4 separate regions of the Homo sapiens genome follow, and all the other regions are linked to region 3. The links come from fine-mapping of genetic effects on gene expression. A gene starts in region 3. Each other region holds a variant in brackets. All regions are shown on one strand. Distances are from middle to middle.

Region 1 (8,123 bases), 28 kb after region 3:
CTATGTTAGCTGGGCTGGTCTTGATCTCAGGTCATCCACCCGCCTCGGCCTCCCAAAGTGCTGGGATTACAGGCGTGAGCCACCGCGCCTGGCCTGGATGTGGATTTTTTTCTGATGCAATGAGAGGCCATTGGAGGCCATTAGGCAGGAAAATCAAGGATCTCATGTTCAATACCTGCTATAGGCTACATCAGAGCTTTTTCCACCTCTGACATAAGAGATAGCAGCTGCCAAGGGCCTGGGTTCTATTTCCAGAAATCCACGAAATGACCCACTAGCGTGTGATTTTGTATTAAATGTAGCAAGACTGACATACATCAAATCGGGCTGATATATATTTTGCAGTTTGGCACTGACATCCTGGTGTGTAGCTCAGATCACCTCGGGTAGGGCCAGGTGCACAGTGTCTGATGGAAGAGGGGAAGCCTGCCTGCAGGTAGGGGACACAACAGCAAGTGGGGTCATTGCCTTTACCATACTGTGTTGCATTGCAGCTTAAATGGATGCAGCTAAACAGCTTTTTTTCTTCTTTGAGACAGAGTCTTGCTCTGTTGCCCAGGCTGGAGTGCAGTGGTGCGATCTCGGCTCACCGCAAGCTCCGCCTCCCAGGTTCACGCCATTCTCCTGCCTCAGCCTCCCAAGTAGCTGGGACTACAGGCGCCCGCTACCACGCCCGGCTAAATTTCTGTATTTTTAGTGGAGACGGGGTTTCACTGTGTTAGCCAGGATGGTCTTGATCTCCCGACGTTGTGATCCGCCTGCCTCGGCCTCCCAAAGTGCTGGGATTACAGGCATGAGCCACTGCACCTGGCCTTTTTTTTTTTTTTTTCGTTTTGTTTTGTTTTGTTTTGAGACAGAATCTCGCTTTGTCACCCAGGCTGGAGTGCAGTGGCACGATCTTGGCTCACTGCAACCTCTGCCTCCTGGGTTCAAGCGATTCTCCTGCCTCAGCCTCCCGAGTAGCTGGGACTACAGGCTCATGCCACCATGCCCGGCTAATTTTTTTGTATTTTTAGTAGAGATGGGATTTCACCATGTTAGCCAGGCTGCTCTTGATCTCCTGACCTCGTGATCTGCCTGCCTCAGCCTCCCAAAGTGCTGGGATTACAGGTGTGAGCCACTGCGCCCGGCTGAGCTTTTCTGATTATATTATCGTTACCACTAACCCAACCCTCAAAAACTGGACATGGGGCTTGCAAAGATAGACAGATTGAATATAAACTAATAAAGCCAGCACAAGCCACAAAAAAGGAAATAGCAGACCTGATGCTTCTTCTCTTCATAATAGAAGTCCTTCGTTAGCCACATTATAGGTAAAAACATGATCTCATCAGATCTGCCAAAAATCTGGCAAATGAGCAAGAGGGAGTGAGAGAAATTATCAAAAAGAGTGTTTGCAATACATTTGTACATCCCTTATCACTAACAATGCCTTTCACCTTCAGTATATAGTCTGTCCTGAGAAAAATAATAATAGTCGTATGAGTAATTATAAACAAATAATTGGAATAGTTGGCAGCGTGTGCTCAAAAATGTTTTGTTGTTAGTGGTAAAATCACCTAACTCAGGAGATCATTCCAATGCCTGCAAATTTCTTAATGAATCCAGGACTATTTTTTAAAACATTTTTTATTTTTTGAGATAGGGTCTCACTCTGTTGCCCAGGCTGGAGTGCAGCAACTTGATCATAGTTCACTGCAGCCTCCAACTCCTGGGCTCAAGTGATCCTCCCACCTTAGCCTCCTGAGCAGCTGGGACTACAGGTGCATGCCACCACACTCAGCTAATTAAAAAAAAAATAGAGACAAGGTCTCAAAATCCTAGGCTCAAGCAATCCTCCTGCCTTGGCCTCCCAAAGTGCCAAAACTATTCTTGATCCCAGCACAATGTGTGACCCAGAGTAGGTCCTTAATAAATATTTGTTCAGGCCGGGAGCGGTGGCTCACACCTGTAATCCCAGCACTTTGGGAGGCCGAGGTGGGCAGATCACGTGAGGTCAAGAGTTCGAGACCAACCTGGTCAACATGGTGAAACCCCATCTCTACTAAAAATGCAAAAATTAGCTAGGCGTGGTGGCAGGCACCTGTAATCCCAGCTACTCAGAAGGCTGAGGCAGGAGAATCATTTGATCCCAGGAGGCGGGGGCTGCAGTGAGCTGAGATCACGCCATTGCACTCCAGCCTGGGTAACAGGGTGAGACTTTGTCTCAATCAATCAATCAATCAATCAATATTTGTTCGGTGAGTTAGTGAGTGAATGAAGGCATTCAAGATTAGGAACTTGCCAGTATGCCCAGCCTTGCCTCACCTCATCCCGGCCCCCAATGCCATTTCACCCTAAGTGCCCAATATCCAGACTGCTTACTGCTCCCTCAGAGTCTTCCCAGCCCATCTGTCCGACCCTGGCACACCTCTCTCAGCTTATTCCTACAAACCCTTTGGGACTTGAGTGTGAATGGAATCTTTTCTAACAAACCTTCCCTGACCCAACCTCTGCCAGATCTGGGCTGAAGACCCCTTTGGAGCCCTTTTCATATTGTTCGTAATTTTTAGTTTTATTTTTTGGGGCCCACTCCTTGAAGGCAGGATGTAGGTCTGCCACCAGAGTTTCTTTTTTTTTTTTTTTGAGACAGAGTCTGGCTCTGTCCCCCAGGCTGGGGTGCAGTGGCACAATCTCAGCTCACTGCAACCTCCACCTCCCCGGTTCAAGCGATTCCCCTGCCTCAGCCTCCTGAGTAGCTGGGATTACAGGCATGCGCCACCACACCCAGCTAATTTTTGTATTTTCAGTAGAGACGGGGTTTCACCATGTTGGTCAGTCTGGAGCCACCAGGGTTTCAATGAATATTTGCTGGATGAATAAATAAATGGAAGAAAGAATGAAACAGTTGGCTTGGGCATGGTATTCAGGCACAAGTTTACTATTATGATGTCAATCAAAGGCTCGCAGATTCCTCATTAGGTAGAATAAAGTTTACAGGAACCCATCCCTTACTGATGTTAGTCATTTTTCAAGGCTCTAAACTTTGCCTCTGGCCTTGGTTTTGGCACCCATCTTTCTCTGGACCAAGCTGTCTCCTACCACACACCCCTCTTCTCCCTTCCCCTTCTCTCTGTCATCAGATTGCAAGCTTGTACCCTGAGGGCTGTCTCAGGCAGCAAGGATCTGGATCTACAGGCTTGGTGAAGGCACA[A/G]TTCCTAGTCTCTTGCCTTGAGCACACACAGGAAGTCAGCCACCCAGCCACAGTTATATTTAGATTCCTGTCACCTGATGGGGTCATCTGTTAATCAGGGCATAGTGGTAGGTGCAGCATTTTGGGAGTAAACTGAGGTAGGACCAAGGTAGAGAGGAAGTGAGCAGAAAAGTCAGGTACTGACTCCAGGCTCTTTGGCAGGATGAATATTCATGGCTTACATTACACCTAGAGAGATAGAAGGCAGACCAAAGGAGGAACTTGACTTGAGAGAGAAAACAGTTCTTGGCTTGGGCAGGGTAACGGTGGTGCCCCTGAGAGCAGCAGGAAGAGCTGGCCCCTTGGGGCCTCTTGCAGTCCTGAAGGCCAGTTGGGTGCAGGAGCAGGAGCACGGGCCCCTTTGCTGAGTGAGCGGGGCCGAGTGAGTGGTTTTTTTCCATAGGCAGGAATACCCAGCTGCGGTCAGCAGAAAGAGCTGTGGTCACAGGACCCTGTACACAGGGTAGAAACCAGAAAGAAGCAGACATAGCAGGAATTTTTTTTCAAGCTTCCAAGAGCCTTCTCTGCCCTCGATTTGGTTTATCAAATGACTGCTTTGGGAGCTGGGGGACGGGCCCTAAATTGTCATGGATCCAGTTGCTTCTCCCTCCTTTTCTTTTTCTAACCTCGCCTTCATTTCCAAATGACCCCCTTTTATTTCTAGAATCCACCCCCACCACTATAGTAGGTACCTTGCAAGGAGCTCCTGCCCACACTCCTTTCTTTGGCATCCAATCCATTCCAGATCCTGCTGACAGTGTTGGCTTCCCACAACCCACTCCTTTCTGAAATGCTCGGGTGCTGGCCCATCACCGGGGGATCGTCTACACCCCTCCGTCTGGCTTCTGAGTTCTCCATGTTCTGACTGACACTCACCCTTCCCAACCCCAGGCTCACCTTTCTTTCTTTTTTTTTTTTTTGACAGCTTTATTGAGTTATGATTGACATGAAATAAACCGCACCCATGGCCAGGCGAGGTGGCTCGTGCCTGTAATCCCAGCACTTTGGGAGGCTGAGGCGAGTGGATCACAAGGTCAGGAGATCGAGGCCATCCTGGCTAACATGGTGAAACCCCGTCTCTACTGAAAATGCAAAAAATTAGCCGGGCGTGGTGGCATGCGTCTGTAAACCTAGCTACTCAGGAGGCTGAGGCAGGAGAATTGCTTGAACCCAGGGGGCAGAGGTTGCAGTGAGCTGAGATCGCACCATTGCACTCCAGCCTGGGTGACAGAGCGAGACTCCATCTCAAAAAAAAAAAAAAATCAACTGACTATATATGTGCAGGTCTATTGCTTGACTTTCTTTTCTGTTTCACTGATCTATTTATGTATTACCTGCAACAATAACACATTGTTTTTTTTACTGTAGCTTTATGAGAATTCTTGAATCAAGTAGTAAGTCCTCCAACTTATTCTGCTTCAAAGTTATTTTGGCTATTCTAGGTACTTTGCATTTCTAAATAAATTTTAGAATCAGCTCATTCTACCAAATAAAGCCCACCAAGGTTTTGATTGGAACTGTGTTGATTTTGTAGATCAATTTGTGGAGAATTGAAATCTTACCAATATTGAGTCTTACGATCCATGAATATGATAGAACTTTCATTTATTTTGATTTTCTTTATTTCGATTTTCTTTATTTCTTTCTTAATTTTTTTTTGACAGAGTCTTGCTCTGTCACCCAGGCTGGAGTGCAGTGGCATGATCTCAGCTCACTGCAACCTCCGCCTCCCAGGTTCAAGCAATTCTCCTGCCTCAGCCTCCCCAGTAGCTGGGATTTCAGGCACGTGCCACCATACCTAGCTAATTTTTGTATTTTTAGTAGAGACGGATTTCACCATGTTGGTCAGGCTGGTCTCGAACTCTGACCTCAAATGGTCCACCGGACTTGGCCTCCCAAAGTGCTGGAATTACAGGTGTGAACCACAGCATCCGGCCCTTTTAGTACTTTTTAAATGTTGCTTTAGCATCTTCTGCATCACATTAACTCCCAAAAAGAAGATTGCTGTCATTTTTATATTTGTTTTTTTCTCTGGCTGCTTTTATATCTTCTCTTCATTGCTGTTTGTAAGTAGCCCGATTAAGATGCACCTTGGGCTGGGCGTGGTGGCTCACGCCTGTAATCCCAGCACTTTGGGAGGCCGAGGCGGGCGGATCATGAGGTCAGGAGATCGAGACCATCCTGGTTAACACGGTGAAACCCCGTCTCTACTAAAAAAATACAAAAAAATTAGCCGGGCATTGTGGTGGGCACATGTAGTCCCAGCTACTCGGGAGGCTGAGGCAGGAGAATGGCGTGAACCCAGGAGGCGGAGCTTGCAGTGAGCCGAGATCGCGCCACCGCACTCCAGCTTGGGTGACAGAGCGAGGCTCCGTCTCAAAAAAAAAAAAAAAAAAAAAGATGCACTTTGATTAGTGTTCTTCATGATTCTTGTGCTTTGGGTTCATTGAGCTTGCTGGGTGGGTGTATTATCTACGGGTGTATCATTCTCATCAAGTTAGGAAAAATTTTTCCCTTATTTCTTTGAATATATTTTTCTGTACCTCCTCCTTTTGGAAATGGAGTCTCGGTTATTGGAAACTCCAGTTACACGTACATTAGGCTTCTGGAAGTTATCCCCCAACTCACTGTCATTTATTCTCAGCCGTTGTCTTTCTCTGTATTTCACTTCAGATTACTTTCTTTTCCTTTTTCTTTTTTCTTTCTCTCTTTTTTTTTTTTTGAGAAGGAATTTCACTCTTGTTGCCCAGGCTGGAGTGCAGTGGCGTGATCTCGGCTCACCGCAACCTCCACCTCCCAGGTTCAAGTGATTCTCCTGCCTCAGCCTCCTGAGTAACTGGGATTACAGGCATGCACCACCACGCCCGGCTAATTTTGTATTTTTAGTAAAGACTGGGTTTCTCTATGTTGGCCAGGCTGGTCTCGAACTCCTGACCTCAGGTGATCCGCCTTCCTCGGCCTCCCAAAGTGCTGGGATTACAGGTGTGAGCCACCACGGCCCGCCCGGATAATTTCTATTACTGTGTCAAATTCATTAATCTGTGGTCTGCAGTGTGTAATCTGCTGCAAATTCCATTCAGTGTACTTTTCATCTCTAGAAGAGATAGATGATAGATACACTCATATATACATACATAGTCTATCAGTATCTATATATCTTCTATGTCTCTACATAACATGCTCTTGTCCACTAATCTCATCATCTCTGTTATTCCTGGGTCTGTTGCAATTGATTTTTCTCTTCATCATGAAAGTATTTTTCAGATTTATTGAATACTTGGTAATTTTTCACTGAGGGATGTTATTTTAGATAAAATCAAAGCCTCTCTGAGGAGGGCAACATTAGGTTGGAAAATAAGAATAGTTGACCCTTTAACAACACAGGGGTTAGGGGTGCCAACCCCTGGTGCAGTTGACATCCCACATGTTATTGGTAAGGCTTCTGGTCAATAGTAGGCTTAACTGCTAATAGCCTGCTGTTGACCAGAAGCCTTACCAATAACATTAACAATCGATTAACACATTTTGTATGTTATATGTATTATATACTGTATTCTTACAGTAAAGTAAGATAGAGAAAAGAAAATGTTATTAAGAAAATCATAGGCCAGGTGCAGTGGCTCACACCTCTAATCCCAGCACTTTGGGAGGCTGAGGCAGGCAGATTACTTGAGGCCAGGAATTCGAGACCACCTGACCAACATGGCAAAACTCCATCTCTACCAAAAATACAAAAATTAGTCGGACATGGTGGTGGGCTCCTGTAATCCAAGCTATTTGGGAGGCAGAGGCAGGAGAATTGCTTGAACCTGGGAGGCAGAGGTTGCAGTGGGCAGAGATTGCACCACTGTACTCCAGCCTGAGCGACACAGCAAGATTCCGTCTCAAAAAAAAAAAAAAAAAAAAGGCCAGGTGCAATGGCTCATCATACCTGTAATCCTAGCACTTAGCACTTTAGGAGGCCGATGTGGGTGGATCACCTGAGGTCGGGAGTTCGAGACCAGCCTGACCAACATGGAGAAACCCCATCTCTACTAAAAATACAAAATTAGCCGGGTGCGGTGGCGCATGCCTGTAATCCCAGCTACTCAGGAGGCTGAGGCAGGAGAATCACTTGAACCCGGGAGGCAGAGGTTACAGTCAGCTGAGATCACGCCATTGCACTCCAGCCTGAGGCAACAAGAGCGAAACTCTCTCAAAAAAAAAAAAAGAAAGAAAGAAAAAGAAAAAAGAAAATCATAAAGAAGACAAATTATATTTACTATTCATGACATGAATATTTAAGAATATTTGTTTTATTTTTTTACATTTAAATTTTAACTAAAATCTGGAATTAGTTTTGATGTGTGAAATATGATTCCAATTTTACCAACGAATTTTTTTCCCCTTCCGCCAGCACTTGGCAACCATCATTCTACTTTCTCTTTGTATGAATTTGCCAATTTTAGGTACCTCAATATAAGTGGAATCATACAATTTTTTTTTTTTAAAGACAGAATCTCGCTCTGTCACCCAGGTTGGAGTGTAGTGGCACGATCTCAGCTCACTGCAACTTCTGCCTCCCGGGTTCAAGTGATTCTCCTGCCTCAGACTCCTGAGTAGCTGGGATTACAGGCATGCACCACCATGCCCAGCTAATTTTTGTATTTTTAGTAGAGACGGGGTTTCACCATGTTGACCAGGCTGGTCTCAAACTCCTGACCTCAAGTGATCTGCCTGCTTCGGCCTCCCAGAGTGCTGGGATTACAGGCGTGAGCCACCGCGCTCAGGCACAATGTTTATTTTTTATGTCTGGCTTGCTTCACTTTAGTATTGCATCCTCCAGATTCATTCCTGGTGTCGCATGTACCAGAACTTCCTCTCTTATTAAGGCTGAATAATATTCCACTGT
Region 2 (8,141 bases), 800 kb before region 3:
TGTAATCCCAGTACTTTGGGAGGCTGAGGCGGGCAGATCATGAGGTCAGGAGATTGAGACCATCCTGGCTAACACAGTGAAACCCCATCTCTACTAAAAATACAAAAAATTAGCCGGGCGTGGTGGTGGGCGCCTGTAGTCCCAGCTACTCGGGAGGCTGAGGCAGGCGAATGGCGTGAACCCAGGAGGTGGAGCTTGCAGTGAGTGGAGATCGCGCCACTGCACTCCAGCCTGGGCAACAGAGCGAGACTCCGTCTCAAAAAAAAAAAAAAGGTGAAAAAAATCTGTGGGAGAAATAAGTGAAGAGGGAAGTCTGATTCTGTTTAACCCACCTCTCTCAGATGTGTGTGTGTGTGTGTGTGCAGCACACACAGACACACAGTCAGTTGTGAGGGCCTTGACATTAGGAACCATTTCCCTGGCACATGACAAGTGTCTGGCAACTACTGGGTGAGCTGGAAGTATCAGAAAAAGTAAACCTTGTTATAGACACAAGGTGAAAATACTTTTCCTACCAGAGCTGGAAAGATCCTCTCAGAGAAATCTCAGTTAAAGCCCTTTATCTTATTGTAAAATATATAAGTAAACTGAGGCCCAGAGAAGGAAAAGAACTCATCAAAGTCACACGCTGAGTCCCTGCTATGGCTGGACTGGAAGTCGCATCTCCCTGCACCCAGCACCAGCACCCAAGCTCCCAGCACCCAGGTCATCACCCAACTCCCAGCACCCAGGCGGTCACCCAGCTCTCAGCACCCAGGCCATCACCCAGCACCCAGCTCCCGGCACCCAGGTCATCTGCCAACAAACTTCCTTTCTTCTGGAAAACTGGGATCTGAGCAGTGAGTTCCAATTATGCTATGACAGCCAACTGGTAGCTGATATGCCTCCTCATTCTGGAACTGTCCCTGGACCTTCCTGCCTCTAGAATCAACAGTCCAGGGCCCCAGCACTCACCGCTCAGCACACGCATCCTGGCAGTGGGAGACAGTCATCTTTCTCAAGTCATAAAACACAGCTCCTTTCAGAGTCCTCTCGTGGCCATCGTCACTGAAGCATCCAATGTAGGTGCCTGCAGAAAGGGAAGCATGGCTAATACCAGAGGCCCAGGAATCATGGGCCCACCCTTAGGAAAAGCCAGGGGAACCTCTGCCTTCCTGGCCAAGGCCACTCTCAGAGAAACCCGGGAGATGAGTGCTGCAGGCTACCTCCCTCCCACTCAGTGCTGAGCAAAGTGAGCATCTGACACCTCCCACTTGTTTGTTTCCTGCCCATTTTCTCTTTTTTAATGGCCCACTGTCCACCCTGACGGCTCTGCCAGGAGCCAGGCGTCGGCCTGACCACTGCTTTCTTCCACTACCCCAACTCAGAAGTTGGGAAGGCTGGATTACCTCTCATGGACTCTACCCCTCCTCTCTAGCCCTGCCCTCCCTGGGCTCAGAGAGGCCTCTCTACCTTGGCAAATGCCCTGAGAGACAGGGTCGTTGCCTCCTTGGGGGCCAGAGAGAAGAAATCAGTTAGGGCAAGTTTGATTTTAGCAAATTTAAGGAAGATCTTTCAAACGGGGAAAGCTATTTCAAGATAAAGTCTGTCGTCCCAAGAGGGAGTAAGACCCCATCTCTGGAGTGTGTCCGCAGAGTCTGTTAAGAATGGGAGCAAGTGTCCTGTGTGGGAAACAACAGGGCCAAGTGACCGCAGAGGCCTCTCCAGGCTGGTCACCTGCACACATCCCTGGAAGGGGATACTGGGGACACTCATGCTGCAGTGAGAAGCCAGCCGTGCACGCGCCAGTGAGAGTCTGTCACAGCCCTGCCCTGCCACCCCGAGGGAGGGAGACATCTCCCAGAGATGCACAGAGAAGTTGGGAGATGGCAGTCCTGATGCAAACGCGGGTAGGCATGTAAATGTCACGCGCACCAGTGTTTTGAAGGAGCGGCATGGGAATTTGCAAACACGCCGTCACACAGTCCCCAAGCCGTGAACGCACACCCACAATAGCTGCGCCGAGATCTGGATCGGGCACCTGTGATAAACACGCTGCACGTCTCCCCAGGAAGGGCCGCGTTCCGCTCATTCATGTCACCTGGGGAGCGCACCACTGCCTCCAGAGAAATTAGGCTGTCTCTGGGAAGTAACATGCCCAGGACCTCCCAGCAGCCTGCCAGTGGCTCCCAAGCGGCTTTTTAGTGAGGAGAAAAGTCCTGATGGTCCACAGGCCTGGATGCTCCGTGAGGGCAAGGGAGACTGTCTCTGTTCCTGCCAAGAGCCTGGTCCAGGGCAGCGGCTGGGGGAGTGGGGCCACTGCTGAGTGGCCTAGGGGAGGAAGTCTGCCAACCATCCACTTCTGGGCCTGAATCGGGGAGTGACTTTTCTTTGTACTTAGCAGAGAGCCTAAATACAAAGAAGGGGGCCAGGTGCTGTGGCTCACACCTATAATGCCAGCACTTTGGGAGGCCGGGGCGGGTGGATCACTTGAGATCAGGAGTTCGAGACCAGCCTGGTCAACATGGTGAAACCCCGTCTCTACTAAAAATACAAAAAATATATACATACCAAAAATTAGCTGGATGTGGTAGCACACACCTGTAATCCCAGCTACTCCAGAGGCTGAGGCAGGAGAATCACTTGAACCTAGGAGGTGGAGGTTGCAGTGAGCTGGGATCATGCCACTGCACTCCAGCCTGGGTGACAGAGCAAGACTCTGTCTGAATATATATATATGAATGAACAATTATAGTACTATTTATTATCCATGGGGACTAGCAGTAATGCATGAAGTACATAAGTATATATATATATATATATATATATGAAGTCAGGACGGTCTTACTGACTGCACCAAGGTGCAATATCCAGGGCCCCAGGTTAAGGCAAAGCAGAGGAGAACAAGCGAGATGGCAGGAGACAGGACTCCCCACCACACCAAGACCCAAGGGACCCAGGAGACCCTCGGACCACAGAACCCCAGGGCTGAGGAGGGAACAACGGCCACCTTCTCCAGTGTTTGCCAAAGGGTCTGGTTCCCAGCCAGGCTCTGAGCCTCTTGAGGTCACCTTCATCTGGGGACGCCCATCAGCACACATGGCCACGCCCACAGGCACATGCTACTGCCCTCCACTGCCCAGACATCCAGTCCCACGTGCATCTCTCTACTTCTGTAAGTCTCAGGTCCACCGCCACCAGCACGGACCACTGCACAGAGCTTTCACCCGGGTCAGTGAGAATGGATCCTTCTCCTCTGCCTGCCTACTTAGTAAAAGAAAACTAATATTTGAGAAATTTCTGATGGGTTGCTCAGCAAAGAAGTTCCATTTCAGCTTTCAATTAAACAGCCAAAGCATAAGCTCAGGATTATTAAACATTTATCATTGTAGATGGGAAATTAACCACAAGGTTTTCAAGGTGCTTGGGCTCAAGACCTTCCCAGACTGAGACTGCACGTGGCTGTACATGCTTCCCAGGCTGTACATGCTTCTGAGGAAGTGGATGGAGACAGCCTTTGGGAATAGGCTCCACCACTATCTGGCTGTGCAAGCTGGGATGTGCAGCTGCCTCTCTCTGAGCCTCAACTTCCCCATCTATAAAATGGGGATACGGTTCCAATTCCATGAGGTAGTTGTGAAAATTCCATAAGGTAACACATGTAAAATGTCTAATACAAGGCTTGGCATGCAGTAATTACTCAGCAGCGATTGTTTTTACTGTTAATATATTGTTATTAATAATGAAAACATTTAAATTACTTTTCTTCCCAGAAACTCAAATTCTTCATCATTAAAACAGTGATAGCGGCACTTACATCATAAGGCTGTTTGAAGATTAAATTAAATGAGATAACAGATGTATGTCTATACAATACAATGCTTGGCACATAACAGATGTCCAAATAAATAACAGCCATTATTATTCTGATCCTACACTCTAACCTGGGACGTGTGATGGATGGATCAGTAAATATTAGCTGAATAATTAACACGTTAATAAAAGAGAGAAAAAAAATTGTTTCAAGCAGTCAGGCTCTGGTTCTTCTGGAAACAGGGAGTGGCCCACCTGTGACCAGCTGGCCATTTGATGGAGCTCACCGGCGTGGAGGGCGAGCCCGGGCCTGGCTGGCCCCGTCTCAGTGTGCGACGGGGATAAAAGAGGAGGCGAGCTCTTTTATCTGGACGCAGAATGAACAGCTTTTCTAACTCCCCGACAGAGGCGAGAATGTTCAGGAAAGAAAGAACTTCCGAGGGATACACTGGGACCCACTCTGAGGCGGATTTATTCCTTTCAGCTGAAATGGAGGCATTGCATTATTGTCTGTCACTCTGCATCTGTTCATTTGCACATCAAAATGGACATACCGTGAGGCTAGTAACGACGGCTTTGAAGATATTGGAATGTCTTTGGAAATTACTATCAATAAAAAACAAACTGGCTATGGAGAAGTTACTATTTTTCCCCTAGTAAACTTACAGACATTTTATTCCATTATGGATGTTGTCCAAGGTATAATGAAATGCTCAGTGATTGATGGAGCCTCCTGCAGCTTCCGCGCCTTACAGGATCCCCTTTCAGGAGGATGGCGGGCTGCCCGGGCCACAAAGAGACACCCGCTTTGTTTGAGGCCCCAGCAGCTGTCCTGAGGGCTGGGCTGCAGGCTACTCTCCACCAGTGAGGCCGGACTGGCTGTGCTTGGCCCATGGAGCCCCACGACAGGAAGGGGCCCACAGGGATTGCAGGCCAGCACCCTGCCTTCCCCCATTCTCTGATGACCATGAGAGCACAGCCTCCCCAGACTTGGTTGTTTTGCTGTTCAAAGGAGAGCAAATTCTTCCTTCGGTCCTGGCACACATTCACAATACTTGACAACCTATGGAGGGCACTGACCATTCAGAATTGCCACCATTTGGCACTGGAATCACATTAACCCTCTCTTTGCTGGATAAGGGGGAGGTCTGGGAGCCACTGGGGAGGCAGCCAGAGTGTAGATGGCACCCCAGCGGCCCAGGGCAGCAACCATTTACCAGCCAACCTGGAAGTATT[A/G]TAATTATTTTAACAACTGATAAGACCATAGTGGTATATAAATTTGGATATCAGTCCTGCTTATATCTAGCCACAATCTCTCTAGCTTTTACTAGAGCCCCTTCCATCACTTCTGTAAGTCATTAGGGGTAACTTAAAGTAAAGGGGGGCTCACTGGTTCCCTGAGACATATACACTCTGCAGTCAGGGCTGAGCCCTCCCCTCTGCTGGTCACTTCTATTTTTATTTTTATTATTATTATATATATTTTTTGAGACAGGGTCTTGCTCTGTCGCCCAGGCTGGAGTGCAGTGGCGCGATCTCGGCTCACTGCAACCTCTGCCTCCTGGGTTCAAGCGATTCTCCTGCCTCAGCCTCCCAAGTAGCTGGAATTACAGGCACGTGCCACCACGCCTGGCTAATTTTTGTATTTTTAGTAGAGACAGGGTTTCACCATGTTGGCCAGGCTGGTCTCAAACTCCTAGTCTCAGGTGATCCGCCTGCCTCGGCTGGGCGTGGTGGCTCACGCCTGTAATCCTAGCGCTTTGGGAGGCTGCTGGTCAGTTATAAAGGTCACTTCTCACTGAGTCCACAGCCCACTTCGCACGTGCCTCTAGCAGACCTCGGTCGTGCTTTGTAGAAATAATTTGGGTGCATATCTGACTCTATCACCAGACCGAGCTCCTCCAGGGCACAGTGAGGTGCACACGTGAAGAGTCATTTGGTGGCTCATCAGTAAGCGTGGAATGAAGGCAATGAAGAGAGGAACTGAGCCCACTATGCCCAAGGTCACATGCCCAATAAGTGGCAATACACAGGTCTATTTTTAAAACGTGTGCATTTTACATGGCTTCCTCTCAAGTAACGTTGACTCCTGCCGGTCAAGTATACTTTAGTCCAAAGAAGTTTCACTGATAAAACCTGCACAGAGACCCAGTCTCTTGGTGTGTTGCGGAGAGTTTGCAGAAATCATGCCTGTGTCAAATGAGCTGAAGCATCAGCTCCTCATTCCTCCCTCCCTTCTGACACACGAGCCTTGCTGAGAAATCCTACAGCAAGTGCAATGGCCTGAATGATTTCTGAAGGAACTTCCTTCCACAGCGACATGAACCCACAGCCCTCCAGTCTTTATTTGACTGAGCTACCAGTCAGTCTCCTAAAGTAAGGACAGCTTGGGCTCCGTTCTCTTCCACAGAACCTTCTCGTCATGATCAAAATAAAGCCAAACTCCTAGGCCTGGCACTCGTGGCCCTCCCTAACCCAGGCCCCAGTGCTCCTCCTGCCTCATCTCCTTTTATATTCTGCCAGGTGGTCCACTGTGCTCTGGCCACACTTATTACAGTCCAGAGAGCAGTTCCTCTTCTGACTTCGGGTGCAGGGCCCAGTGAGGTGGTGACAGGGATGCTGAGAAGCTGACTGAGCTCAGTCACCCTCCAACAACAACTTCCACGCTTACTGGGAGCTCCCCAAGCACCAGGCACATTTGCTGCACCCTGCAGAGAGAGTCTGCATAATTCAGCATAAACAGCTCCAACCCGGAGCCAGACTGTCCCCACGCTGGCATCCAGCAGTGTGACGATGGTAGACCCTGCCGTGTCCCTTCCATGTCTCCCAGGCCTGCCACTTCCAGCGGGTCCTTTGAGATGTGTATTCTGCTCTGGTACTGAGCCTCCAGCCGGATGAAGTCTGGTTGCCCATTTGTAACCTGCTTGATAACACACCCTTCACTGGCTGCCTTCCCTTCCCTGTCCCACTTCCCGCGCCCCCACTAGTGTTCCCTGGGATCACATCCCAAATATACTGGATGCACGTGAATCCTGGTTTCAGAGTTTGCTTCTAGGGAACCCACACTAAGAGAATAACCTTGGCAATTGACTCAACTTCTCCATGCCTTGGTTTCTTTACCTGTAAAACTGCGATATAATAATAATACCTGTAAACAGCAGACTTACAGGTGCATAGGAAATCCCATATGCATTAGCTGCTTTTATTAAGTCATAATAGCTGCCAGTTAGAGTGCCAAATAATATACCAGGGCCTCTGTCCTGGGAGTTCTCAGCTTCAGCATGCATCAGACTCACCTGGAGACAGCGTTAAATACAAAGCCTGCTGGCCCCTACCCCAGAGTTCCTGACTAGGCAACTCCGGGAGAATCTGAGAATTTGCACTTGTGACAAGATCCCAGGCGGAGCTGATGCTGCTGGTCAGGGACCCCACTTTGTGACCCATTCCTCTGTGTTATCACATTTGCTTGTCACAATAGCCCAGGAATGGCGTCTTTAGCTCCATTTCAGGCAGACCTGGTGACATTAAGTGACACGTCTAATTTTTTTTTTTTCTTTTTTTTGAGACAGAGTCTCCTTCCCAGGCTGGAGTGCAGTGGCCCGATCTCTGCTCACGGCAACCTCTGCTTCCCAGATTCCAGCGATTCTGGTACCTCAGCCTCTCGAGCAGCTGGGATTACAGGTATGCGCCACCACACCCGGCTAATTTTTGTATTTTTAGCAGAGATGGGCTTTCACCATGTTGGCCAGGCTGGTCTTGAACTCCTGACCTCAAGTGATCTGCCCGCCTCGGTCTCCCAAAGTGCTGGGATTACAGGCATGAGCCACTGCGCCCAACCTATTTTCATATATTCAATGAAACTTGTCCTACTAGATTCTCTGAGATTAAAAAAAAAAATTGTTGGCCAGGATTCCAGCCAATGTCTGTCTGAATCCAAAGCCGGAGCGCTAAGTGACCTGCTCACAACATCTCAGCCTTGAGCCATGTGGAACTCCAGCTGGTGAGTGAGCAAAACCCTGAAGGACTTCGCATCGCAGGCCCCTTCCTGTCCTGCAGAGCAGAAGGAAAGAACCATCTAGCGGTGAAGGCCACAGGCCTGCAGAGAGAAAGGGGACACCAAACCTGTGACCCTGAATGGGGGGTCCTGGGAACAGCTCCCCCAAATGCAGCTGAGCGCCTACCTCGGCTGTGGATGGCGGGCCTGGCAGCCTCGGGGCCCAGGGCGGGCGGTCCCTGGGAGTCACTCATGAAGTGGTGGAACCAGCGGCGACGCAACTGACGCAGCTCCGAGTTGCGGCTCCGGAGCCAGCGGGGGCCGGGCCGGGGCCGGGTCAGGGGGCTCTGCAGCA
Region 3 (8,142 bases):
CATCATCCAGAGCTTGTAGGATTACAGGGGAAATCCACCTGCCATATATCGTTGGCAAGTATGTAAATTGATGCCTTGGAGAGTAAGCTAGCAACAGGTATTAAAATTTAAACCACTCGGAACTCATGCCCTTTATTTAATTCACTAGTCTTACAGAAGTAAAAGAGTACCTTAAAAAATATGCACAAGGACATCCATTACAACACTGCTTATAAAATAATTAAAATTTGAAAACAATCTACTTGCCCCACAATAGGGAAATAGGCCATAAATCATGCCTGGTACATGCATATGATAAGATCGTCTTTAAGAAGAATGAAGAAGGCCTACAACACTGACCTGGAAGTAGTCCATGATCTAGTACATAAGCCAGATGGCATGGATTTGAATCCTGCTCCCCCACTTAATAGCTGTATAACACAGGCACGTTTCTTTAACTTCTGTGTGCTTCAGTTTCCTCATCAAGAAAATAGAAGCAGTAATATTCAATAGTACCATTGCTATGAAGATTTCCTAAGATAATGCCTATAGTGTTTGCAGAACATTACATGGCCATATAACCATGAGTATATAATATGATAGCTAACATTTATTAAGTGAGATAGGGAAGTTGCAGACTTATGTATGTAAAGCATGTCCTTCAGGGGTAAAAGGTAGCATGTCTGTGTAACTAACAGGAAACAATCAGGAATCCAGCCTGGCCAACATGGCAAGAATAAAAAATAATGAAGTAGGCTGGGTGCAGTTGCTCATGCCTGTAATCCCAACACTGAGAGGCCAAGATGGGAGAATCACTTGAGCCCAGGGGTTCAAGACCAGACTGGGCAACACAATGAGACCCTCTCTACAAAAGAAAAAAAAAAAAAAGAAAAAAAGTGAAGTAAAACCAGAGCAAATGCTTCAAAGATATAGTTGAACTTAGATTAAAAGAAATACTAAAATTAGAAAATTTTCATTTTTAAATTCTCAAGGGAAAACAGATCAACTGAAATTTCTTTAACTATTAAAATTACCTGTATTCCAAATAAGTAAACTAAGATGCAGTATCAAAAACCCAAAACTTTTTTTAACTTACAAAATAATTACAATGAATAAAATGATTACATTTCATCCCTTCGATTTACACACAAATCGATTTTCCTAATCTACCATATGGCCATGAAAAACAGACAATATTTTTTTTTTTTTAAAAAGTCATCAAAGACAATCGCTTCTGAAACAGGATAAAACAAGATAAAGTCAAAGACTAAGCAGTTAGTTATCTTTCACCACCAGTTTGACACAAAAGAATTCTGGCGATTTTTTTTTTTTTTAATCAGCAGGACTAGGAAATTCAAACGTGCCTAAAGCTAAAATGGTCTACATGAGTTCAGCTAAAGACACAAATTAAATCCCCAAAAGCCGGACTCACGGGCTCACACCTACAATCCTAGCACTTTGGGAAGTGTAGGCAGGTGGATCCCTTGAGTTCAGGAGTTTGGGACCAGCCTAGGCAACATGGCAAAACGCCGTATCTACAAAAATACAAAAATTAGCTGGGAATAGTGGCATGCACCTGTAGTCACAGCTACTTGGGAGGCTGAGGTAGCAGGATTGCTTTGACCCCAGGAGGTCGAGGCTGCAGTGAGCCAAGATCGCGCCACTGCTCTCCAGCCTGGGCAACAGAGTGAGATACTGTCTCAAAGAAAAAAAAAAAAATTAAAATCCCCAAGATGAACTTCTAAGGCACTGACACAAGGCACTCAAACGTACCAAATTATCTCTCTCCTACTGTAAAAAGTAGCCATGGCTACCTACATTAATTTAAAATAAAAATTGCAATCTATGCAAACTAAATCTCATCCTAGAGTCACAAGATTTGAGAAATAGGAAAGAAACCTGAACTAAAATACCAAGAATACAAGATTTCCTAAAGCTAGTTTTCCCTAGCCTCGTTCAAGTGCTTAGTCACTTCTGCCTATTTACAAGGAAGACCATTTCATATCTTCAAAGAGGCAGGGAATTTTGATTCCAGACGGTCATGTCACCTGAGCTGCCCTAGACGTTTCTTTCCATGCAACTCAAGAGAAGGCAGCAGCCAGCTATGCATACCTACCACTCCTGTTCAGAACCACAAGCTCTCTGTATCTTGCCTCTGTGTGCAGTAACAAAGTGGGATTGTGGAAGAACAAAGTTTTCTTGCCTGACACCAAATGCAAAAGGTGATCATTAAAATGCAGCCTGAAGACATCCCAGTTTCCTCTCTCTGACAGCCCACCAAAAATGCTTCCCTTCCCTTCTCCTGGAACAGAAACAGCAAAGCAGGTTCTTATAAAAGTCTAAATGCTTACTGGACATCTCCCCTTAGGCAAGCAACAACACCCAAAACTACAGGCTAACAGGCTCTGAAGCACATTTCCCAGAGAGCAGCCAGAACCTTAAAATCTGATAACATGGTTTCAAGTTCCCCAAAGGCAAAAATAAAAAGTAAGGGTTTCACGAAAGGTTATTTTGAGACAACCCCAAGGAAAGCCAAGTTTTAAAGTACCTACTCCGTACCAAGCCCCTTTTCCCAACATTCTACTCTACTCACACTTAAAGATGCTAAGCACACACGCTGATTATAGAAATACACCAGAAAGTACTTTCACAACTAGATACAGTGGGACCTTGGAAAAGCCCAAGCACACTATTTCCAAACATCTATTCTAGGTGGTAAAACCTGGAACCATGTAGTCAATCTGTGAAGCACAGCTTAGTCCAATTTCCCAGAAGGTCACGAAGGGCTCTGACAACCAACTTTGATTATTTAGGATGGGGCCCTTTTTTCCTTCCAAGAATATAAATGACACATTTCTTCGACTTCACTTTTTTTTTTTTAGTTCCACAAGCAAATATCTTCAAGTAGTGCAAGTAGGCCTCAGCATTCTCAAACACTATTCTCATTATTCCTAATACCTCCATAATACTATTATTGTATATACACATTCGTGTTGCTATTTTTATAGATAAAATATAAAGGCATGAATTAACCTCTTGGTTAATTCGTGGGTGAGAATACTGAGGCTCAACGAGGCTAAGAAATGAGCCCAGAGCTTGCTGGTTAAGAATACAGGTCCTCTAGACTCCCAGGCCCCAACACTTAACCATTAAGCCACACTGCCATTCAGGGAATGCTACTAAATCCAGTTACTGTACACAACTACTTTCAGGTCACATAACTGGGTGCAAAGAGTTCTATAGCAAGGATTGGGGCGGCAGGGAGGGTACACTACCTAAGCTAAGATTTTTTTTCTTTAACGAATATAGCACATGTTCCCGATTTCCATCCTCCCCCACGGGCAGAACCCACGTGCCGGTCCCCCGCTACCCAGAACCGCTCCCTCCCCACACTACCCCACGCTACCCAGCAGCCTCCCCACGCCCTTCCCTCTGCCCTCCCGCAAGCGCTGCACCCGCGCCTCCCGCCCCCTCCCCAGCGACGGCAGCCGGGGCGCCCGCGCCGCCCTCGCGCGCCGCAGCCCGCGCGCCCCCGCCTCCGCCCGGCGGGGTCACCCCCGGGGCCTGCGCGCGCCCTTGCCGCCGCCTGCCCGCCCCGAAATCCTCCCGCGACGCCGACGCCGGGCAGGCCGCGCCCGCCGCGCCTGCCATGGTGGGCGCCTCACCGTCAGGCTGGGAAGCCGGGCCCGGCTGCGCCATGACCAGGCGGCCGGCCTCGGGGAGCGGGGATGGGCGGGGAAGCGGCGTCCTGGGCTCCCGCGGGCTCAGCTGGCGGAGGAGGCGTCAACCGAGCCGCCGCCGCCGCCGCCCAGAGAGAAACCGCTAAGGCTGGATCCGCCGGCGCCGCCACAGCCGCGGGCAGAGACGGACCCGACCGCCGACCTCCGCCTCCTCATCCTGACAGCGGGAAATAAGCAGTGCGCAGGCGCAGGGGGATGGGGCGGCACGTGACGTTGGCCCGAGGGGAGGGGCGGGGCCTCGGGAGCGCGGAGGGAGCGCGGAGGGAGCGCGGAGGGAGCGCGGAGGGAGCGCGGAGGGAGCGCGGAGGGAGCGCGGAGGGAGCGCGGAGGGAGCGCGGAGGGAGCGCGGCGGGAGGGGAGGGTTTCGGCGGAGCTGGGCGCCTGACCCAGCGGCGCGGGGAGGCTGAGTGCCGAGCGGAGCTGGAGAAGAGGGGCTGCAGCAGAGGCCTGGCCTCTCGAAGGTGCCGGTCCCGGTTCTCCACCCCAGCACAGTGAGGGGAAAAAAAAAAATGAGTAAGAGAGGAGGACCGATGGCGGGGTGCAGTTCCAGCCTCTACCTCTTCTAGCTTTGCGACCTTGGGAGAGTCACTTCACCTCTTGGAATTTTTATCAATATAATGGCTAAGAAAAGTTTAAACGAGGTAATAAAGTATGAAGAACTGTTTCCGACAGTACTGGGCCTGGACCCCAGGTCTTCTGGTGCAGAGGCCAGTATACTATCCATTCAGCAAATACGTTTGGGTTTTCAGTCGTGATAGATGCTGGAGATACAGCCAGGTACAGACCCTGCACTCATGGCAGGAAAGGAGAAATCATATACACAAAGTGTGGCCCTTATACTTGGGCCCCTGGGCCCTATACTTTAGGAACTCCCCTCTAATCACCACTCCCCGTCTGATTTCGACACCTGGAGTGCCCCATGCCAAGGAGGTAGTTTAAAAAGCTTTTTTTTTTTTTTTGGAGATAGAGTCTCACTCTGACACCCAGGCTGGAGTGCCATGGTGCGATCTCGGCTCACTGCAACCTCTGCCTCCCGGGTTCAAGCAATTCTCCTGCCTCAGCCTCCCGACTAGCTGGGACAACAGGCGCACGCCACCACACCCGGCTAATTTTTGTATTTTTAGTAGAGACGGGGTTTCACTATGTTGGTCAGGCTGGTCTCAAACCCTTGACCTCGTGATCCGCCTGCCTCAGCCTCCCAAAGTGCTGGGATTACAGGCGTGAGCCACCGCGCCCGGCCTAAAAAGCTATTTTGAAATCAGAGAGGAGCATCAGGAATTATGTACATTTTAAGACCCAGCAATCCCACCCCAGGATGAGGGAGTCCACAGGGTTTGGCACTTCAGGACCAAGTTCTGAATACTTGTGGCCCCAGAATTCCCTTTCCAGATGGCTGAAGCTGTGGTCTCTTTCCCAGATCCATTCTCTCTATGGCAGAGTCTAGACATCCCTAAAAGAAGCTAAAGTGAAAGCATAAAGAATGAGTTCATGTCCTTTGCAGGGACATGCATGAAGCTGGAAACCATCATTCTCAGCAAACTAACACAGGAAAAGAAAACCAAACACCTCATGTTCTCACTCATAAGTGGGAATTGAATAATGAGAACACATGGACACAGGGAGGGGAACATCACACACCGGGGCCTGTGGGGGGTGGGGGGAAGGGGAGGGAGAGCATTAGGACAAATACCTAATGCATGCGGGGCTTAAAACCTAGATGACGGGTTGATAGATGCAGCAAACCACCATGGCACATGTATACCTATGTAACAAACCTGCACGTTTAGCACATGTATCCAAGAATTTAAAGTATAATAAAAAAATAATAATAGGCCGGGCACAGTGGCTCACGCCTGTAATCCCAGCACTTTGGGAGACTGAGGCAGGTGGATCACGAGGTCAGGAGTTCAAGATCAGCCTCTCCAAGATGGTGAAACCCCATCTCTACTAAAAATACAAAAAATTAGTCGGGTGTGGTGGCAGGCGCCTGTACTCCCAGCTACTCGGGAGGCTGAGGCAGAGAATTGCTTGAACCCAGAAGGCGGAGGTTGCAGTGAGCCAAGATCGCACCACTGCCAGCCTGGGCGACAGATCGAGACTCCATCTCAAATAATAATAATAATAATCAGAAAATCCACTAATTAGAATCAGTTTCTACTTTCTTTAAATCATTTGTTTTAAATAAGGTATACTTTTATTAAAATGATTATTTCTCACTGAAAAAAAGGGAGGCTAAAGGGCAGCTTTGTTTTATTTTAAGGGGGTGACACGACACTTGGGTGTTTGAGCTCCTATGTCCACAGATCCCTCATGGTGCAGGACAGAGGTGAGAAAAGAAGGCAAGTGAGCCAAGAGACAATAGTTGGGCCAGGGCCTGTGCTGCTTTCGCCACCTCATTCATGGGCATAACTCCCAGGAGCCCAGGAATTCTAAATTTAAACCTGGTCTTCCAGGTCTTAAACAGGTAGATTTGTCCAAGTAGAAGGATAGACTGTATTAAGGTTAGCGGTTAATTGGAGTAGTTTGTAATTTTATTTTATTTTATTATTTATTTAATTTTTGGAGACGGAGTCTCTCACTCTATTGCCCAGGCTGGAGGGCAGTGGCACCATCTCAGCTCACTGCAACCTCCACCTCCCGGATTCCAGTGATTCTCCTGCCTCAGCCTCCTGAGTAGCTAGGATTATAGGCGTGTGTCACCACGCCCAGTTAACTCTTGTAATTTTAGTAGAGACAGGGTTTCACCATGTTAGCCCGGCTGGTCTTGAACTCCTGACCTCAAGTGATCTACCCACCTCGGCCTCCCAAAGTGCTGGGATTACAGGTGTGAGCCACCACGTCCAAACTGGTTTGTAATTTTAAATAATTTAGGTATCTATTTGTACTTTTGCCCCAGGTCCTGCCATCGTTAGAGGAGAGCCAAAATACAGACTCGAGTTTTTTGAGCAGTTAATGTCTCCCAAATGGCTGGTGTGCATTTGAGAGAGCAAGCAGGGTCTCCCCAACACCCTGCCCAACCCCCCATAAATGATTTTCCTGGATGAGCAAATCCATGCTTACCAGGAAGACCTTTGGCCAGGATAGGGCAGCCCAGTGCATCCTCTGTATTGTTGTGATGACTAACACGAGGCATAAGCCATAAAGATAGCAGATGCGGCCAGGTGTGGTGGCTCACGCCTGTAATCCCAGCACTTTGGGAGGCCGAGGCGGGCAGATCATTTGAGGTCAGAAGTTCAAGACCAGCCTGACCAACATGGTGAAACCCTGTCTCTACTAAAATACAAAAATTAGCCAGGCGTGGTGTTGGGCACTTACAATCGGGAGGCTGAGGCAGAATTGCTTGAACCCAGGAGGTCCAGAGGTTGCAGTGAGCCAAAATTGCACCACTGCACTCCAGCCTGGGCGACAGAGCAAGACTCCCTCTCAAAAAAAAGAAATAAATAAAAATAAAATAGAAGGGGCTCCTTCCAGTGAGAGAGTGGCAAATTTGTTGCCATTGATAATGAGGCTTGAAGCCAGGCCCTCAAGTCAAGGTCCCTCAGAAATGGTCAGGCATATGATTTGGACACCTAGGGCTCTCCATGTGAGGGAAGTAGTTAAAAAGCCATTTTGAAATCAGATAGGAGCATCAAGAATATTGAACATTTTCGTATTTTTAGGTAAACCTTAAGACCCAGCAGTTCCACCCCTAGGAATATATTTTAGGAAAACAAATGTATGCTCAAAGTCTTTACTAAGTATAAAAGATGTGATTCTTATGTTCTGAAGGAAATTGGGAATAAGACATAAACACATGAAATAATTAGTTACCAATGACATTGCCCATGTGCCCCAGGAGACACACGAATATTCACAGTGGCATAGTTCATAATACGATAAATAAAGGACTCATATGTTCATCAACAGTGGACTAGATTTTTAAAAAGTTTTAACATACAGGGCATCATGGCGGGTGCCTGTAGTCCCAGCTACTGGAGAGGCTGAGGCAGGAGAATGGCGTGAACCCAGGAGGCGGAGCTTGCAGTAAGCCAAGATCACACCATTGCACTCCAGCCTGGGCGACAGAGCGAGACTCTGCCTCAAAAAAAAAAAAGTTTTAACATACAATGGAATATTCTACAGCAATGAAAATGAACAAACTGGCCAGGTGCGGTGGCTCACGCCTGTAATCCCAGCACTTTGGGAGACCGAGGCGGGCGGATCACGAGGTCAGGAGATGGAGACCATCCTGGCTAACACGGTGAAGCACCGTCTCTACTAAAAATACAGAAAATTAGCCAGGCGTGGTGGCGAGTGCCTGTAGTCGCACCTACTTGGGAGGCTGAGGCAGGAGAACGGCGTGAACCCAGGAGGTGGAGCTTGCAGTAAGCGGAGATCGCGCCACTGCACTCCAGCCCGGGCAACAGAGCGAGACTCCGTCTGA
Region 4 (8,000 bases), 76 kb before region 3:
ATAGAAAACTGCAAAGCAAACCAAATCCAGGTTGCTCTAACTTAAATTCCGCAATGCTAGTCAGGCAGATTGCTCCAACCTGAGAGCTGTGAGTTCAGGTGGGGAGGTTCACATTCACTGTGATTAACTAGCTAGCTCCTTTCTCTGTCACAATTACCTGGAATACCCAAGGCAGACTATGACAAGGGTCAGGTGACACACGTTAATATCCACTTGCTGGCAACATGTGCCTGCACTGACTCCAGGAACCGTCTGTTGAATGAACGCTAAATCCCAGAGCTTCCCAGTGTGCCTCAGCGTGAGCAAGAGGAAAAACGTGAGAAAGGTAACTCACCTCTTTCTGCAAGAGATTCCATTCTGTTTCACTAACTAAACGATAACCACTAGGGGACACATAGGCACTCTCCATGCCCTGGGTAACGCTGGAGAGGAGGGACGCTGTCTCTTCTTGTTCTGGTGTCATCGCCTTGATTGCTCTTTCCTGATCTTTGGTTAACATAAACCCACTTGGCATCTGGAGTGACCCAAGGGATGCAGTATCAAAGTTCTCAGACACTGAATCTGCTCCTACCAGTGGTCCAAAATCTGACTCGTCCAGGTTTCCAGCAGATTTTGCTTTGTAGTTATAGCCTAAAGCTTTGGATTGCAATGAGCCCGAGGTTCCCAAGCTGTCTGTAGACTGTGCTCTCCTGAGTCCATCTTTAAACATGTCATTGTCCGATTTACTGAAAGGATCTCCAGATGGCAACAGCAAGCCTGCATCTAAGGAATGAACTGAGCCACGGGTGCTGTCTAAATGCTCCTGAAATGTGAAAATACATATGGCCAAGTTAGACAATTCTCTGCGTTTTTAAAGACAAAAACTATAATAAATGTATTCCGCCACTCATTACACATGATAATCATTAATGTGCTACCTTCACAGACTCATTGAACAAACACTAAGTGTCATTTCTACATGCTGGACACAAAACCAGGCCCTCAGGATACAACTGTGAGCAAGATATAATCCCTGACCTCGAGATACATACGGCTTCAAAAAAAAAAAAGATAAGTAAGCAGACTGTTATAATACTGTGATAAAAGGATGGGCTGGAGCTATGTGCTGAATGCTCTGGTAGCTCAAAGAGCTCCCAAATACGAACAGTTGAGGAACGTCACCTGCAATTCAGTGTGGCGTGTGTCAAGCGCGAGGTGCCTATCATGAATCCAAGCAGAGATATTCCCTTGACAGAGGGACACAGAAGTCTTTCGATAGAGACTTGAGAGTAACTATCGTATAATGATAATTAAAGTCACAGCAGCAAATCAGAACACGTAGGATGAGTGTGTAGGCAAAGAGGGCCAAGGGCAGAACCCTGAGAAAGATTAACATCTTGGGGATGAGCAAAGGAGAAGCCAGAGTAGTGGAAAGGAAATGACGAGAACGTAGTATTTTCTTTTTTTCTGAGACGGAGTCTCGCTCTGTCGCCCAGGCTGGAGTGCAGTGGCGCGATCTCCGCTCACTGCAAGCTCCGCCTCCCGGGCTCACGCCATTCTCCTGCCTCAGCCTCCCAAGTAGCTGGGACTACAGGTGCCCGCCACCTCGCCCGGCTAATGTTTTCTATTTTTAGTAGAGATGGGGTTTCACCATGTTGGCCAGGATGGTCTCGCTCTCCTGACCTCGTGATCCCCCGACCTCAGCCTCCCAAAGTGCTGGGATTACAGGCGTGAGCCACCGCACCCGGCCCAAGAATGTGGTATTTTCCAGCAAGGTGTAATCAACATGTTCAATGTTGTATACTATGCGAAAGCAGATGCAAAAAGTCACATATTATGTAATTCCATCTATTTAAAATGTCCAGAACAAGTAAATCCATAGAGCCATAAAGCAAGTTAGTGGTTACTAGAGGCTAGGGCAAAGGGAAAATGGCGAGTGACTCTAATGGGTTATGAGGTCTCCTTTGGGAGTGATAAAAATGTTTTCAAACTAAAAACATTTGTGTATATATGCAATGCCACTGAATTGTACACTTTAAATTTTATGTTACATGAATTTTATCTCAATTTTTAAACAACGTGGTACAGCACATTCCTGAAGGCAAAAAGCAAACCAGTGCCATTACATGAAGCAGTTGCATAGTTAGTGGGAAATAAGAAAAATGATTTAAAGAAAAATGTAACAAGTTTTCCTTCCAACTAAATTTATTCCATTTAAATGACAATGTTTTAAGATAATATCCTTTCTACGTTTTGTTGTTAAACGCCCTGTTTTAAATGAACCAGAGGAGACTGTGGAATACAGTTGTTGTTACTGGCAAGCTCATGTAACCTATTTTTTTTAATGTTTTAAAAATATTCTTGGTGTAATAAAAAGGTGACAAATTTTGAGTTAATGCCTCCATTTCTTTCCTTTTAAAGATTGTTACTCATCTGAAACTGCAATGGCTAAGAACACAAATCTCGTATATATTAAGCTTACTATGGCAAAGATCCCAAGTAAGTATCCTAATAAAAACTGGGATAAGCCATTCTGTTAGTTTACAAATAACCCTAACACCCACTGCTATGTATCATATACAGTGCTGCTGTGATACTGAAGAGGGAAGGGGCTAGGGATAGAACAGTTGTGAGGGCCATTTGAAAAACATCAGACTGGCTGGGCGCAGTGGCTCACACCCGTAATCCCAGCACTTTGGGAGGCCGAGGCGGGCAGATCACAAGGTCAGGAGATCAAGACCATTCTGGCTAGCATGGTGAAACCCCGTCTCTATTAAAAATTACAAAAAATTAGCCAGGCGTGGTGGCAGGTGCCTGTAGTCCCAGCTACTTGGGAGGCTGAGGAAGGAGAATGGCGTGAACCCGGGAGGCGGAGCTTGCAGTGAGCCGAGATCACACCACTGCACTCCAGCCTGGGCAACAGAGCGAGACTCCGTCTCAAAAAAAAAAAAAGAAAACATCAGACTACAGGCCTGGCGCAGTAGCTCACGCCTGTAAATCCAACACTTTGGGAGGCTGAGGTGGGAGGATAGGTTGAGCCCAGGAGTACAAGACCAGCCTGGGCAACATAGA[G/A]AGAACTCCTTTCTACAAAAAAATTTAAAAATTAGCCAGGCATGGTACCACACGCCTGTAGTCTCAGCTACTCAGGAGGCTGAGGCAGGAGGATTGCTTGAGCCCAGGAGATCGGGGCTGTAGTGAGCTGTGATGGTGCCACTGTACTCTAGCCAGCCTGGGTGGCAAGAACGAGACCCTGTCTCAAAAAACACAAAACAAAAGACCCCACATCAGACTACTACATTGGCAATAATATCTTAAAAATGTTTACATCCTTGAATTCAGCAGTTCTTTTTTTTTTTTTCCTGGAGACAGTCTCGCTCTGTCACTCAGGCTGGAGTGCAGTGGCGCATTCTCAGCCCATTGCAGCCTCCGTCTCCTGAGCTCGAGGGATTCTCATGCCTCAGCCACAGTGAGTAGCTGGGACGACAGGCGCCAGACACCATGCACGACTAATTTTTGTATTTTTAGTAGGGATGAGTTCCGCCATGTTGGCCAGGCTGGTCTCAAACTCCTGGCCTCGAATGATCCGCCTGTCTCAGCCTCCAAAAGTGCTGCGATTACACTTGTGAGCCACCATGCCCGGCCAGGCAGTTCTTTTCCTAAGAACTCACACTAAAAAATAAAATAAAATAAAATCAGATGCATCCATAATGATTTTTGTACAAGGAAAAATTATATATAACATTATGACATTACTTATAACGAAAAATTGTATAGTAGTAAAAAATGGAACCAACTTGACTATCAGTGTGTTAATCACGCTTTTCATTTTCTGTATTTCATAATGTTTTGATTTACTGGAGGCCTTGCTGGCTGTGAAGAAACTGCTTCCCAGGACTAGCTAATTTCTAGAGATAATAAACAACTCACCTAACTGTAAACATGCCTTTCACACACAAACCATTCAATCCCAAACCCATATCCCAACCACCTCCCTTACCTAAGTCACACACCGAGCCAGTATTTCCCCTGCCCTAAATGAACCCAGGGCCAGTTCCAGACAGCTAAGAACAGACCCTATACCCCAAAGGCTGCTGGAATTAATTACCAGCCAGTCCTAAACCCTCTGCTCTGCTCCACTTTGCTTTTCCCAAAGAAACCACAATAATAGCTATGGCCCATGCTTTTCTCTCGCTCCTGCTCCTGCCTCCTGACCACCTCTGGTGCTTCCCTGCTGTGGCCATGCAAGGTGTGCTGTACCTCTGCTTCCAGGAGAACTGTGAGTAACACAAAACTTTTTTCAGGGGCATTGAACTCCCTATGTCATCACTCAGTCACCATTATGAATTAAAAACCAGGCAGAAGCTGGAAACGGTGGCTCACACCTGTAATCCCAGCACTTTGGGAGGCCGAGGTGGGCAAATCACTTGAGGCCAGGAGTTCGAGACCAGCCTAGCCAACATAGTGAAGACTTGTCTGTACTAAAAATACAAAAATAGCTGGGCGTGGTGGTGTGCACCTGTAGTCCCAGCTACTCGGGAGGCTGAGGCACGAGAATCGCTTGAACCCAAGAGGTGGAGGCTGCAGTGAGCCAAGATCACGCCATAGCACTCCAGCAAGGGTGAGACAGCAAGACTGTCTCAAAAAAACAAAAAAAGTCACAAATCAATTAGTAGGGAATTGGTTAAAAGAATTATGGTACATTGACACGCTGAAATTCTGTCAGCCACTAAATATCATTTCAGGGAAAAACATTTAATGATGTGCCAAAACCTTAGAGTAGATTTAAGTTGGGGAAAAAATTTGCACAAAACACTATGTAGTTATAATCTAGATTATGTTTTAAAAGTGCAAATAGAGCCAGGCATGGTGGCTCAAGCCTGCAATCCCAGCACTTTGGGAGGCTGAGGTGGGTGGATCACGAGATCAGGAGTTCAAGACCAGCCTGGCCAACATGGTGAAACCCCATCTCTACTAAAAATACAAAAATTAGCCTGGCGTGGTGGCTCATGCCTGTAATCCCAGCTACTCAGGAGGCTGAGGCAGGAGAATCGCTTGAACCTGGGAGGCAGAGGTTGCAATGAGCTGAGATCACGCCACTGCACTCCAGCCTGGGTGAAAGTGAGACCCTGTCTCAAATTTAAAAAAAAAAGTGCAAATAGAAACACATGTGTTCCAGCCGGGGCAACATGTTGAAACACCGTCTCTACAAAAAATTAGCTGGGCACGATGGCGGATGCCTGTAGTCTCAGCTACTCAGGAGGATGAGGCAGAAGGACCGCTTGAGCCCGGGAGGTCAAGGCTGCAGTGAGCCAAGATTGCACCACTGCACTCCAGCCTGGGTGAGAGTGAGACCCTGTCTCAAATTAAAAAAAAAAAAAAAAGAAATATGTTAACATATGTTAACATATATATTATCTCTGGAAAAGAAAATAAGGAAAGGAAGAAAGAGATACATACCAAAATATTAGTTGTTACCTCTGGGTAGGATGATCTATCAGTTATTTTTATTTTGAATGGTGTTTTCTATACTTCCCAAATTTTCCATAATGAACATTTTGTAGAGAGAAAAGCATATTATAAGCATCAGGTTAAAGAAAATGTGAGGTCTACAAATTTCAAATATCTTTAGCCATAAATCCAACTCTCCAAAGCATCTCAGATTAACTTTTGTGTGTGTGAGACAGGATCTCACTGTCATCCAGGCTGGAGTGCAGTAGCAAAATCTCAGCTCATTGCAACCTCCACCTCCCGGGTTCAAACAATTCTCATGCCTCAGTCACCTGAGTAGCTGGGATTACAGGGATCCACCACCTCGCCCAGCTAATTTGTGTATTTTTAGTAGAGATAGGGTTTCACACCATGTTAGCTAGGCTTCAGATTAACTCTAAACCAAGAGTTGTGTCATTATTCTCAATACAAAACAATTATATTCAACATTCAAACTGCAAAACACCAGCTCTGAAAGTCTACGGATCTGTTAAGAGAGAATCAAAAATAAAAATACTTCTCTGTAAATCACAACAAATGTCCCTTTCCTGTTTTCCCACTTTTCAAACATTCCTGGATAGATTACTGCATGATGAAAACACTATGTAATCATTGGCTGTACCCAAAACTTGAGACATTCTCTTGGGAGTCTAAATATTTTTAAAATGCACAGCAGAATTAGACCAAGTGGTTCCCAGTCTATGTCCCAGAACAAAGAATGAACAAAACAACTTCAATATACAGCACTTTTTAGTGTCTACTAAAATTTTTTTTAAGTTTTTCTTAAACATCAAACAATCTGTAAGCATGGGCATATATATAACCACCAGGATGTAGATTATGTATGGCTCAAAGTAAATCTGCAAAGTAAATAGAAACATGATACCCCTGAAAGTAAAGACAAGACCTGTATCCAATTTAAGTGCAATTCATTCACCAGGCCAGGAAAGGAGGTGCCGCAGGGAAGTGAGTGTGATTCTAAGCCGCAGGGACAGGCCACATGAGCATGAACAGTAAGTGCACAGGTCTGGCTACAGAGAGGTGGAGAGCAGTAAGTGAGGCTGGAAGGGCCATTCAACTGTGAATGCCCTTGTATGCCATGCTAGGGATCTTGGGGGATCTTAGTTTTTATTCTAAAGGCAATAAGAGAAGCAGTTCCTTCACTGATAACAAGATGAGCTTTGAAAGATGAGTAGAAGGATTTCAATACTCAGAAAGGCAATGGGAGGAAAGTACTCCAAATGAAGGAACCAACAGACCAAGTGGGAATACAGCCCAAGATGATGACCAACATGGCTAAAATGTAATCCAGATGATGAAGGGCCTTAATTGTCAGAGTGAGGAATGTGTGCTTAATTATATAGGTAATGGGAGTCAATGGTAGTTTTTGAGTAGGGGAGTGGCCTGACTGCAGCTGCACTTAAGAAAATGAATTTGACAGTAATGCTGAGGACGCAGTGGAATGGGACAGGTTGAGGCAGGAAACCCAATGAGGAGGCCCTTGCCACACTGTAGGTGAGAGGTGACAAGGCCACAGAACACCTAACACTTCCAGGTCTCTCTACTCTACCCATTCCTAGTACCTGAAACATTTTACCCTGTGGTGTTATCTGCCAAACCTCACCCATGGCCGTCAGGGATGAAAACCTAATACTGGTTAATACTCTCATATATGCTACAGGGAGTTAAGCATTTCAGCGCTTTAGATAATCTCTTTTTAAACAAAAAAGACAAGTATTAGCAACATGTACTATTCACATCAAAAAAGATTTTGCAGACATTATTTAAAGGTTTATTCTAATGTATTAAATTTTGGAAATACTGGAAAAAAGAACATCTATTTCAGACAGCGAATGAAGCTGCAACATGTTTCAAATAGTGCTACCTATAATGCCATAAAAACAACTGAAAATACTGTCATTTTTATCTAACTTTCACCTCGTAGCTATGCACTTCTCACTTCTCATATGAACAATGTAATTAACTGATGTATGAGTAAGCTAAAATTGTTGACATTGTGTATTTAATGACTTTAATTATAGACTCACTATACCTCTTCATTTGATAACTGGGCTGAAGATTCTTCTTGAGTTAAAGCACACACTACTGGTATTTTTATTTCTTCCTCAACATCTGCTTTTTTGTGATCCTTTCTCTTATTGAGTCTTTGTTGTTCATCATCCTCCTAAAAGGAAGAAAAAAACATATATATGACCCAAGTAACCTACTTAATAAGTGACACAGTTCTTTAACCATTCAAAACAAATAAAGAACAGAGCGTTATGATAAGAGAAAACTGGATACTTACGCTTCTTTGTTTTGTAATCCCATCTAAGGGCCTCTGGCCATTACAAAATATTTTAATATTATAAGCACAAACTAAGAACACTGGTATAAAGAAGAAATCAGGAAGCAGCTTCCAAGAAAAGTATACTGTATAAAGTAAGGCAAAATAAAAGAAAGCAAAACCGCCTCTTCAAATGATCCTTGAAAAAAAAAATTTACACAGAACATTCCTTGTGATTACTGTAGAA

What was found. PIP is the estimated chance that this variant, and not a neighbour inherited with it, causes the effect.
Region 1: its variant is fine-mapped to the expression of RABEP1 in whole blood (TOPMed, PIP above 0.99). The same link has a PIP of 0.9 or more in blood mononuclear cells.
Region 2: its variant is fine-mapped to the expression of RABEP1 in minor salivary gland (GTEx, PIP 0.97).
Region 4: its variant is fine-mapped to the expression of RABEP1 in subcutaneous fat (GTEx, PIP above 0.99). The same link has a PIP of 0.9 or more in monocytes after LPS.

Annotation. Positions count from the first base shown.
Region 1 is chr17:5,250,490-5,258,612 of GRCh38, reverse strand. No RefSeq gene overlaps it. Among named protein-coding and RNA genes, the nearest start is that of SCIMP, 20 kb to the right of the region's middle. RefSeq lists an enhancer at 3,590-4,095. The variant A/G (reference allele first, on the strand shown) is at 3,194.
Region 2 is chr17:6,080,918-6,089,058 of GRCh38, reverse strand. WSCD1 (WSC domain containing 1) reads right to left here. Exons shown (of 9, transcript NM_015253.2): 2 at 7,974-8,141; 3 at 955-1,069. Among named protein-coding and RNA genes, the nearest start is that of WSCD1, 15 kb to the right of the region's middle. RefSeq lists an enhancer at 1,462-2,153. The variant A/G (reference allele first, on the strand shown) is at 5,029.
Region 3 is chr17:5,278,023-5,286,164 of GRCh38, reverse strand. It overlaps RABEP1 (rabaptin, RAB GTPase binding effector protein 1), which reads right to left and starts at 3,881. Exons shown (of 18, transcript NM_004703.6): 1 at 3,645-3,881. The coding sequence starts at 3,678. RefSeq lists an enhancer at 1,076-1,594 and a silencer at 3,442-4,161.
Region 4 is chr17:5,354,010-5,362,009 of GRCh38, reverse strand. RABEP1 (rabaptin, RAB GTPase binding effector protein 1) reads right to left here. Exons shown (of 18, transcript NM_004703.6): 8 at 7,520-7,651; 9 at 335-802. LOC105371505 (a long non-coding RNA gene) reads left to right here. Exons shown (of 2, transcript XR_934178.3): 1 at 1-325; 2 at 926-1,403. Among named protein-coding and RNA genes, the nearest start is that of NUP88, 62 kb to the left of the region's middle. RefSeq lists an enhancer at 1-128. The variant G/A (reference allele first, on the strand shown) is at 3,052.